Regions from separate parts of the Homo sapiens genome. Here region 2 is linked to region 1. Evidence: fine-mapped expression QTL. Tissue or cell type: subcutaneous fat. Region 1 holds a variant in brackets; the other region holds the start of a gene. All regions are shown on one strand. Distances are from middle to middle.

The links. PIP is the estimated chance that this variant, and not a neighbour inherited with it, causes the effect.
Region 2: LINC02066 starts here. The variant in region 1 is the best candidate, but not a certain one, in a credible set for the expression of LINC02066 in subcutaneous fat (FUSION, PIP 0.63).

What each region holds. Positions count from the first base shown.
Region 1 is chr3:151,625,479-151,629,478 of GRCh38, forward strand. All of the region lies in intron 1 of LINC02066 (long intergenic non-protein coding RNA 2066), which reads left to right. LOC105374157 (a long non-coding RNA gene) reads left to right here. Exons shown (of 3, transcript XR_924581.3): 3 at 1-135. Among named protein-coding and RNA genes, the nearest start is that of MIR5186, 61 kb to the left of the region's middle. The variant G/A (reference allele first, on the strand shown) is at 1,849.
Region 2 is chr3:151,550,166-151,554,524 of GRCh38, forward strand. It overlaps LINC02066 (long intergenic non-protein coding RNA 2066), which reads left to right and starts at 1,992. Exons shown (of 5, transcript NR_183765.1): 1 at 1,992-2,096. It also overlaps a transcript of IGSF10 not described here.

The DNA of each region.
Region 1 (4,000 bases):
CCAAGACAGTGAATCACAACCCAAATATCAGCCCCTCCCCATCAAAAGAAGAGATTATTCTGTTTCTGGTGTCTAAGGATTATTAAATATTTGAGATGAATTTATATTAATATGTTACCTTAAATACAAACAATCAACAAAAGATTAAGCTGTCTGTTTTGTGATCTTATTTATTTCTTCAAGAAACAATGAAAACTTCTCATTTGGTTTTGGAACTTACTATTTGGAACTTTATGATACAGGATATTGTATGTTAGCCTGAGTCCACCTCCCCCCTTGAAAAAGGATAGTCAAATAATAAACTTTGCCAACTCTGAGGCTCTGTGTATTCCTGTTCCTGCTCTGAGTGTCCAGGAAGAACAGCAGACTCCTAAGAACATTAATGAAAACAACAACAACAACAACAGCAACACGTGAAGGTTACATTCACAGAGAGATCTGCCATAACCAGCACAGCAGCTGGTTGAAAGCTACAGAAGAGACTGAACTGATTCAATGCATGTCAAGAGTTTTTTGTTTGTTTGTTTGTTTTATTTTAAGTTCTGGGATACATGTGCAGATGTGCAGGATGTGCAGGTTTGTTACATCGGTAAACATGTGCCATGGTTTGATAGGTGGTTTGCTGCACCTATCAACCCATCACCTAGGTATTAAGCCCAGTGTGCATTAGCTATTTTTCTTGATGTTCTCCCAACCCTCACCCCCTGACTGGCCCCAGTCTGTGTTGTTCCCCTCCCTGTGTCCATGTGTTCTTATTGTTCAGCTCCCACTTATAAGTGAGAACGCAGTATTTAGTTTTATGTTCCTGCAACCCAAAGGAATATATATCCTTCTATTATAAAGATACATGAACCTGTATGTTCATTGCAGCACTATTCACAATAGCAAAGAGTTTTTAACTATGAGTTCCTTTAAACTTCTTTATCAAATAATTAGCATTGGAAAATATCATCATCTAGAAGTTTCTGCGGATGTCTACTCACAGTAGACTGTGTCTTCGTAAATGGATGGGCCACCTCAAAGATTTTGGTAAGAGTGGGCATAAATGGGCATGTAAGTGATCACATTTTTTACTTCACTGGCAAATAAAAATGGGGTTACTTATTTGCCTCCTATGGAAATTTAAGATTCTACTAATTTGTATGCTTTCTCTTAATTATTTACTACTTTTCAATAGGAGTGAAGTACCTGGAGTCACAGGCCTAGCTTTGGTTTCTTTGGGACAGCTTTTCAAAAATGGTGTTAATCACTTAAAAATATGTCTAAGCTCTTACAGTGCTAGGCATTGTAGGAAAAATACAGCAAGTCATTTATTGGTCATAAAGACCTTACAGTGAAATGGTGAGTGGAGAAGGGAAGAAGTTTGCAGACTTCCTTCTAAATAAGACTCAGACAGAAAGCAATGGAAGTTCAATGGAAAGGAAGGTTGCAGTGACATTAGTTTTTTATTTTTTCTTATTTTGCAGTGACATTGATTTGAAAAAGACATTTGGGAAATATGTAGAATGTGCCTGGGTTTGCACTTTGCTTCTGGAATTCACTAACGATGTGATTTAAGGCAAATTTCTCTCACTGGAGTGCAGTGGTATGATCATGACTCCCTGAAGCCTCAAACTCTTGGGCTCAAGCAATCCTCCCTACTCAGCCTCTCAAGTAGATGGGACTTACAGGCACACCATCATGCCTGGCTAATTTTTTAAATTTATTTTTTGTAGAGGGTCTCACTGTGTTGCCTGGGCTAGTCTCAAACTCCTGGCCTCAAACTCCTGGCCTCAAGCTATCCTTCTGCCTTGGCTTCCCCAAATGCTGGGATTACAGGCATAAGCCATCACACCCAATCTAAGGTGA[G/A]TTTCTTAACCGATCTGAGCCTCATCATTTCTTCATCTGTAAAGCAAGCACAGTCTTTCCTAATGTGCATTGAGGTTACAGGTAATCAAGAGTGCATGCTAAGCACTTGGCATTTTGTCTGGGACAAGGTAGGTGATATTGTCATTATTAAGAAAGATCAGGAAGGGCACCCCACAAGCTTGAGGTCAGAATGCCTAGCAATTGGAATTACTCAACATCTGAGTTAAGGCTGGGCTCTAACACTAGTTAGCTGGGCACCAAGGAAAACTCAGCGTAGGATGGATATTGTGTGCTGATGAAATGCTACATGGGGTGGTGATATTTACTGCCCCAGGTTCGTCATGGTGTGGAGAAGGTAAGGTGTGATCCTAAATATGAAGCCCCTTTAAAAGGCAATTATCAGCCATACAAATCAGGAACACTAGCATATAGAGAGCAATTTGAAATTTGTATTTGGCAGGTGTGTCTTGGAGAATCTCTAGGGAAAATATGTCCTCTTAAAAACCTTAGAGGATCTGTGAAAAATGTACCTTGCTGCCCCATCTGAAGGCTTCCATACCTCCTCTTCTTTCCTCAAACCCTCAGATGGGACATGGATTGCTTCCTTCTGTCTCTTCATTACCGGGGATAGTATTAATTCTTTGGTGTTCTTTATTATCCTTATTTTTATTATTATGTGAGAAATTTATTAGTAAAATTTTCAGTAAGTAGGATTACAAGCTAGTCTACCTGTGGATAGAATTGCAGCATATATAATACAATGAGAGAGTAGGGAGGGGAGATAAGGAAGCAAGGAAGAGAGAAAGGGAGAGAGTGATTTGTTTAAATTTTTAAATTATTTTATTTTATTTTATTTTGAGACAAGATCTCGTGTCTCCCAGGCTGGAGTACAGTGCTGTAATCGGCTCACTGCAGCCTCGACCTGCTGAACTCTAGCAATCCTCCCACGTCAGCCTCCCTAGTAGCTGGTACTACAGGTACATGCCACCACTCCCGCTAATTTTTTGTTTTTTTTGTAGAGACAGGATCCCACTATGTTGCCCAGGCTGGTCTTGAACTCCTGGGCTCAAGCAGTCCTCCCGCCTTAGCCTTCCAAAGGTTGGCATCAGACACCACAATTCAAGAAAATGAAATAAATTAACAAAATTATTAGGCTAAACCGTGATTTTTTTTCAGACACTGAATTTAAGTTTCTAGGTGTGTGCATTAGTAAGATCTAAAAACATTTCTCTTTTATAGGAAAAGAATTGAAAACTTTGAGAAAAAGATAAAGTGCCCAAATCAAAGCATGCAGAGCTAACAAATGGTAGAGCCGGCAATTGAACATAGGTCTCTCCATAGGCAAAGCCTATGTATGCCCTTTCCAGGGCACCAGGCTGCCTCCCTTAGCCTTGGCACTTGACTTTGATACTGGATACTCTTTTTAAAGACGATGTTATGTAAGTATACAAGGGTTACTTGTTTATTGCTTTTTAATTCACTCTCTACCCAGTATTTAACTGAAACTCTGACTTTCAAGGAAGTGTTATCTGTTATTAACAGACGTCAGGGTATAACAAAAATAAATTATTTTTATTTAGTAGTTTAGGTAACTTCCTGCCTTCAACATTTAATGCTTTGTTCAAACTTCTATGTAGAGAAGAATCTAGTTCATAGATATTTTTCATAATGATCATTCAAAGAAGTGGTGTTCACAAATCGGTGGTTATCTCAATTAGCTACCATCTTCCTCCTTTATGAGCATTTCCCTTCTCCTTTCAGACAGAAATAATATCTCTCTCCTTGGTGCTCCAACAGCGCTCTGTGCCTCTTCAATGGCAAAGCTGCATTTGCTTTGTCTTCTTCCTTGGCGGCTATAGTTTTGATCTAGACTGTAAATTCCCCACTAGACCATAAGTTCCTGTATCCTTCATTTGTAATATCTTAACAATATTCCAAGTATTTATTAGCCTAATTAAATTTTATGTGCCGTATTTTTAAACCGTTTCAGAGGAATTAATTTTAACAATGACTGGGTTATTTTGGTCAGATAATTCGTGAATAATAAGGAACATTAAAGCACTAACTAGTCCTGGTAATGGAGAGGCAGAAGGAAAGAATTTGGTGCTGGACCTAATGGCTGGAAGAAAGGATGAGCTGTGGAAAGGTTTTA
Region 2 (4,359 bases), 75 kb before region 1:
AAAAATGAATCATCATGGAATTGTACACAATTTCACAATTTTACCTGAGGCAAAAGAAAATCTTATTCCATTTTGGCATATCTCCGGAGTAGTGAGTTTGACATTTTCATCCTGATTTCCCTCTGGTCAAACATTTGAATTTTTTTACTTGTTATCAAGGAAATGTTGTGAAATCTTCTAGATTGTCTTTTATAATCTTTAATTGAGAATTTATTTTTAAGTGTTCTTGTGTCCGGGCCAATAGAAAAGAACATATTCCAAGAGCTTTCTCGGACAAGAGAAAGGGCATTTGAGGTTTCTGCACATATCCTCTGGATACAGTGAGGCAAAGAATCCAACTTGGCAAAATTAATTCATGAAGAATTTAATTACACAAATGGCTATTTAAAATGTTTCTTTTCGGGGGTGTTTTGGGATAGGGATGGCACATATGGCTACCAACTAGATCTTTTTTTTAGGTGTATTTAGAGACCTGATTTTTAAAAAAGAAGTTGGTCATTACGATTTTTTTCTCGTTTTTTACATTTCTACTGTCTGACCATGCCCTGAGCCATGAACTCAGCTGATCTGACCATCTCTGGCTTCATGTGGCCAGCACCAAATTAGATTGTGTCCATGTACCCTGGAGTTGATCCTATCATTTCTTGCTGTCTGTTGGCCCTTCATATCCTGGTCTGTTCCTGTTCTTGATTCCTGACATCTGGCCTACGCTCCTGCCTGCGATTGTATGCTTGCCCGATAAATCTGAGGCTGATGTTGCTCCCTTGGTGCTGTCATTTGGCTCTGCTCCTTGTCCCCATTGGCTCTCACTCCTTGTAATGGACTTACCTGGGCCAGTCCTGCTAACAACCCAGCATGGTTCAGTGTGGCCCCTGAAAACCCATCTCAAGATTAACTTGCCTGTGTGTCTACAAGGTTTGACCTTGTCCTGCCAAGCAAACTCAGACCATACTGGCAACCAGAGGTGAAGAGTGGTTTCTTGGCTTGCAGAGAAATTTGCTGTGTACTGAATAAAAACCTTTTTGTTCCCTTAAACACAGATGTTAACTCCCTTTGATGCATACTTATAAGCTTTCAATGAGTTCAGTGGTTTCCTATTTAATTTATTATTATTTTTTAAATAACTTATAGTCATCCCTCAATATGTGGGGGATTGGTTCCAAGACCCCACTCCACAGTATACCAAAATCCACACATCCTCAGGTATCACAGTCAGCCCTGCAGAATCTATGTACACAAAAAGTTGGCCTTCTATTTTTCATGTGTTTTGCATCACCTCAATAACGCATTTTTGATCTGAGTTCAATTGAACACAATCCAAAAACAAAAAAGAAAGAAAAAATCCATCTATAAGTGGATCCATACAGTTCAAACTCATGTTGTTCAAGGGTCAACTGCACTTTAATTTGAGGAAAGGTTAATCAGATGTCAAATACAAGAAATAATTTTCAAGATATAAAATTTTTAAGATATAAAATGCCTTGGAACATGGGCATTACACACACACACACACACACACACACACACACACACACATCTGAAGGCATATTTGTTGAGGTTTCAATTTTTCATTAAAATATTTTAATTAATTTAAGGCATTCTATTCTTGCAATTTAAATATTAATTGAGGATCCTTCTTTTAATTTCAAGAATTTTAAGTTACAAAATCTAGAGCCTATATTCAAACATTATATGGAAAAAACTAGGAATTCTAGTCTTAGCTGTGATTCAAACAAGTTGTGATCATTTTGAACAGGACAATAATGCCATTGTAATCAAATCCAATGCTCATAATCACTCACTGCATGATGTGGTTTGGCTCTATGTCCCCATCCAAATCTCATGTTGAATTGTAATCCCCAGTGTTTGCGGAGGGATCTGGTGGGAGGTGATTGGGTCACGGGGACAGATTTCCTTCCCCCTTGCTGTTCTTGTGATAGTCAGTTCTCATAAGACCTTGTTGTTAAAAAGTGTGTAGCATTTCCCCCTTTGCTCTCACTCTGTCTCCTGCCAGCCATGTGAAGGTGTGCTTACTTCCCCTATGCCTTCCACTGTGATTGTAACTTTCCTGAGGCCTCCCCAGCCATGCAGAAACTGTGAGTCAATTAAACCTCTTTTCTTCATAAATTATCCAGTCTCAGGTACTTCTTTATAGCAATGTGAGAATGAACTAATACACCGCATGACAGCCAATACGTACAGAGACAAGGTGTTGGGGCAAGGAAGGCAACTTTATTTGGAGAGCCAGCAAACCGAGAAGATGACAAACTAGTGTCCTTAAGCAACATCTTAAGTAAATATGAATTTCAGGAATTTTATTTTCCTTTTATGTTAGGGGAAGAGGGAGGGCATTAAGATCAATAGACCTATGACCACGGACATCTGGGTGGCAGTGAGGGTCCGAGGAGGTTCTCAATCTTCTTTCTTCTCAATCAGTTGGCTTTGGATGATGTAAGTCAGGTCACAATGTTCCTATAAATCTTTAGCATAACATTGTTAGTCACATGCATCCTCTCTTATCTCCTCAGGGGGTTAGTGCTGGGAAAGAAACTATTATTATTCTTGCTTTAAACTATAAATGAAATACCTCTCATAGTTCGCTTTGCCTACATGCAGAGATAAGCAAAAGCAGTTAACCTAAAAGAAATGACTGCAGTGATGGGGTTAGGAGCAAAATGAAATTAGTCATGATAGGCCTTCTTTTTACTGTTAAACCATCTGGCATAATATCTAAGAGGAAGTGGTTATATTACATAATTTTTAAGGACCCCATTAGTTTTACGGCTCATCCATGTCTATGAATCCAAGTGATGACTCCAATACCTTTATCTCTAGCTCCTGCCCAACCCTAATAAAATTAAAAAATACATGCAAAGCTATATTTTCATATAACTGAAAATATAATAAATGTAGCTTTATAATATAAATATACCTTTCTAATACAAAGTAGAAACTCATGTATACATCTATGATTATAGAGATGCCTGTAACAATTACGGTTATACATCTGAGTGTTCTGCTGAAGGGTTAGCAATTTTGGATAGATGGTAATATAAAGACAAATTATCTTAAATATTTTGTGAAATTTACTTTCCTTTATTTCAGCAAAATCACATATCATTGTTGTAATCAAAATTTTCACATAATCTGCATTCTAATGAAGCTAATGAGAAGATAATCTTTCTTGAGTTTTCATTAAATAACATTTTTATTTATTTTAAGTTGGAAAACTATTCTTTTGAGTCAGTAGCTATTAAAATTGTCAATAAAAGTTCTTAAAGCAATACTTAGATTCAGAAATGAACCAAAAATGTTTCATACCATGTTAAAACATTAGAATGTGATCAGTTATGACAAATCACTATCACAGATTCTTAAAACTAGTTTAAATTTTCTTATAATGTATATCATGACTTCCACTTTCTTTCAGAGCTCTCTCTCTCTCTGTGTCTCTGTCTCTCTCTCTTTCTATATATATACAATATATATTTACAATATATATGGTATTTCTTAATTTTTTCATCTTCTGAGTTTTTCAATACTAGCATATTATAAAGCAAACCAAAAACAATGATACATTCCTCAAGTTTTTCAAAAGTCTCCTCAGTCAAACCCTATGTTGAAAAACACTGGGCAGAAAATATTTTCATTAGAATTTGCTTTTGAGGCCAGGCATGGTGGCTCATGCCTGCAATCCCAGCACTTTGAGTGACCAAGTTGGGAGGAGCACTTGAAGACAGAAGGTGGAGATCAGCTTGGGTAACAAGCTAGACCTTGTCTCTAAAACAACAGCAACAATAACAACAACAAAAAAAAAACAAAAGAAAAATAGTAGCCAGACACAGTGGCGTACTCCTGTAGTTCCAGCTACTCCAGAGGCTGAGGCAGGAGGATTGCTTAAGCTCCCAAGTTTGAAGCTGCAGCGAGCTGTGATTGCACCACTCTAGCCTTGGTGACAGAGTGAGATCACACACACACACACACACACACACACACACGCAAAGTTGTTTTTGAGATTCTTAGACATGAACTTCTTCTTCCTAGTCAAAATTACAAAAGTTTTTGCTTTTCCCTTAAATTCCAAAGATTTTATTGGAATAGCACTTTGCTGCATTGTTTGAATGTATTTTAACTCTAAAAATAAAAATAAAAAAATTATATACTTTAAAAAAGTCAATAGCCCATCTTAGATCAGCCTGTTTTTTTTTCCTTTTTGTAAATTTTGCTAACATCTTTAGTACCAAACAACTTCATAATAAATAACTAAGGCTAGCAAAATATTTCAATTTTTGCCAAAGCGATTTTCTCCATGTTTGGGTACCTTCTGTGATTTTGCCTAACTCTCATAGTTCATTACCT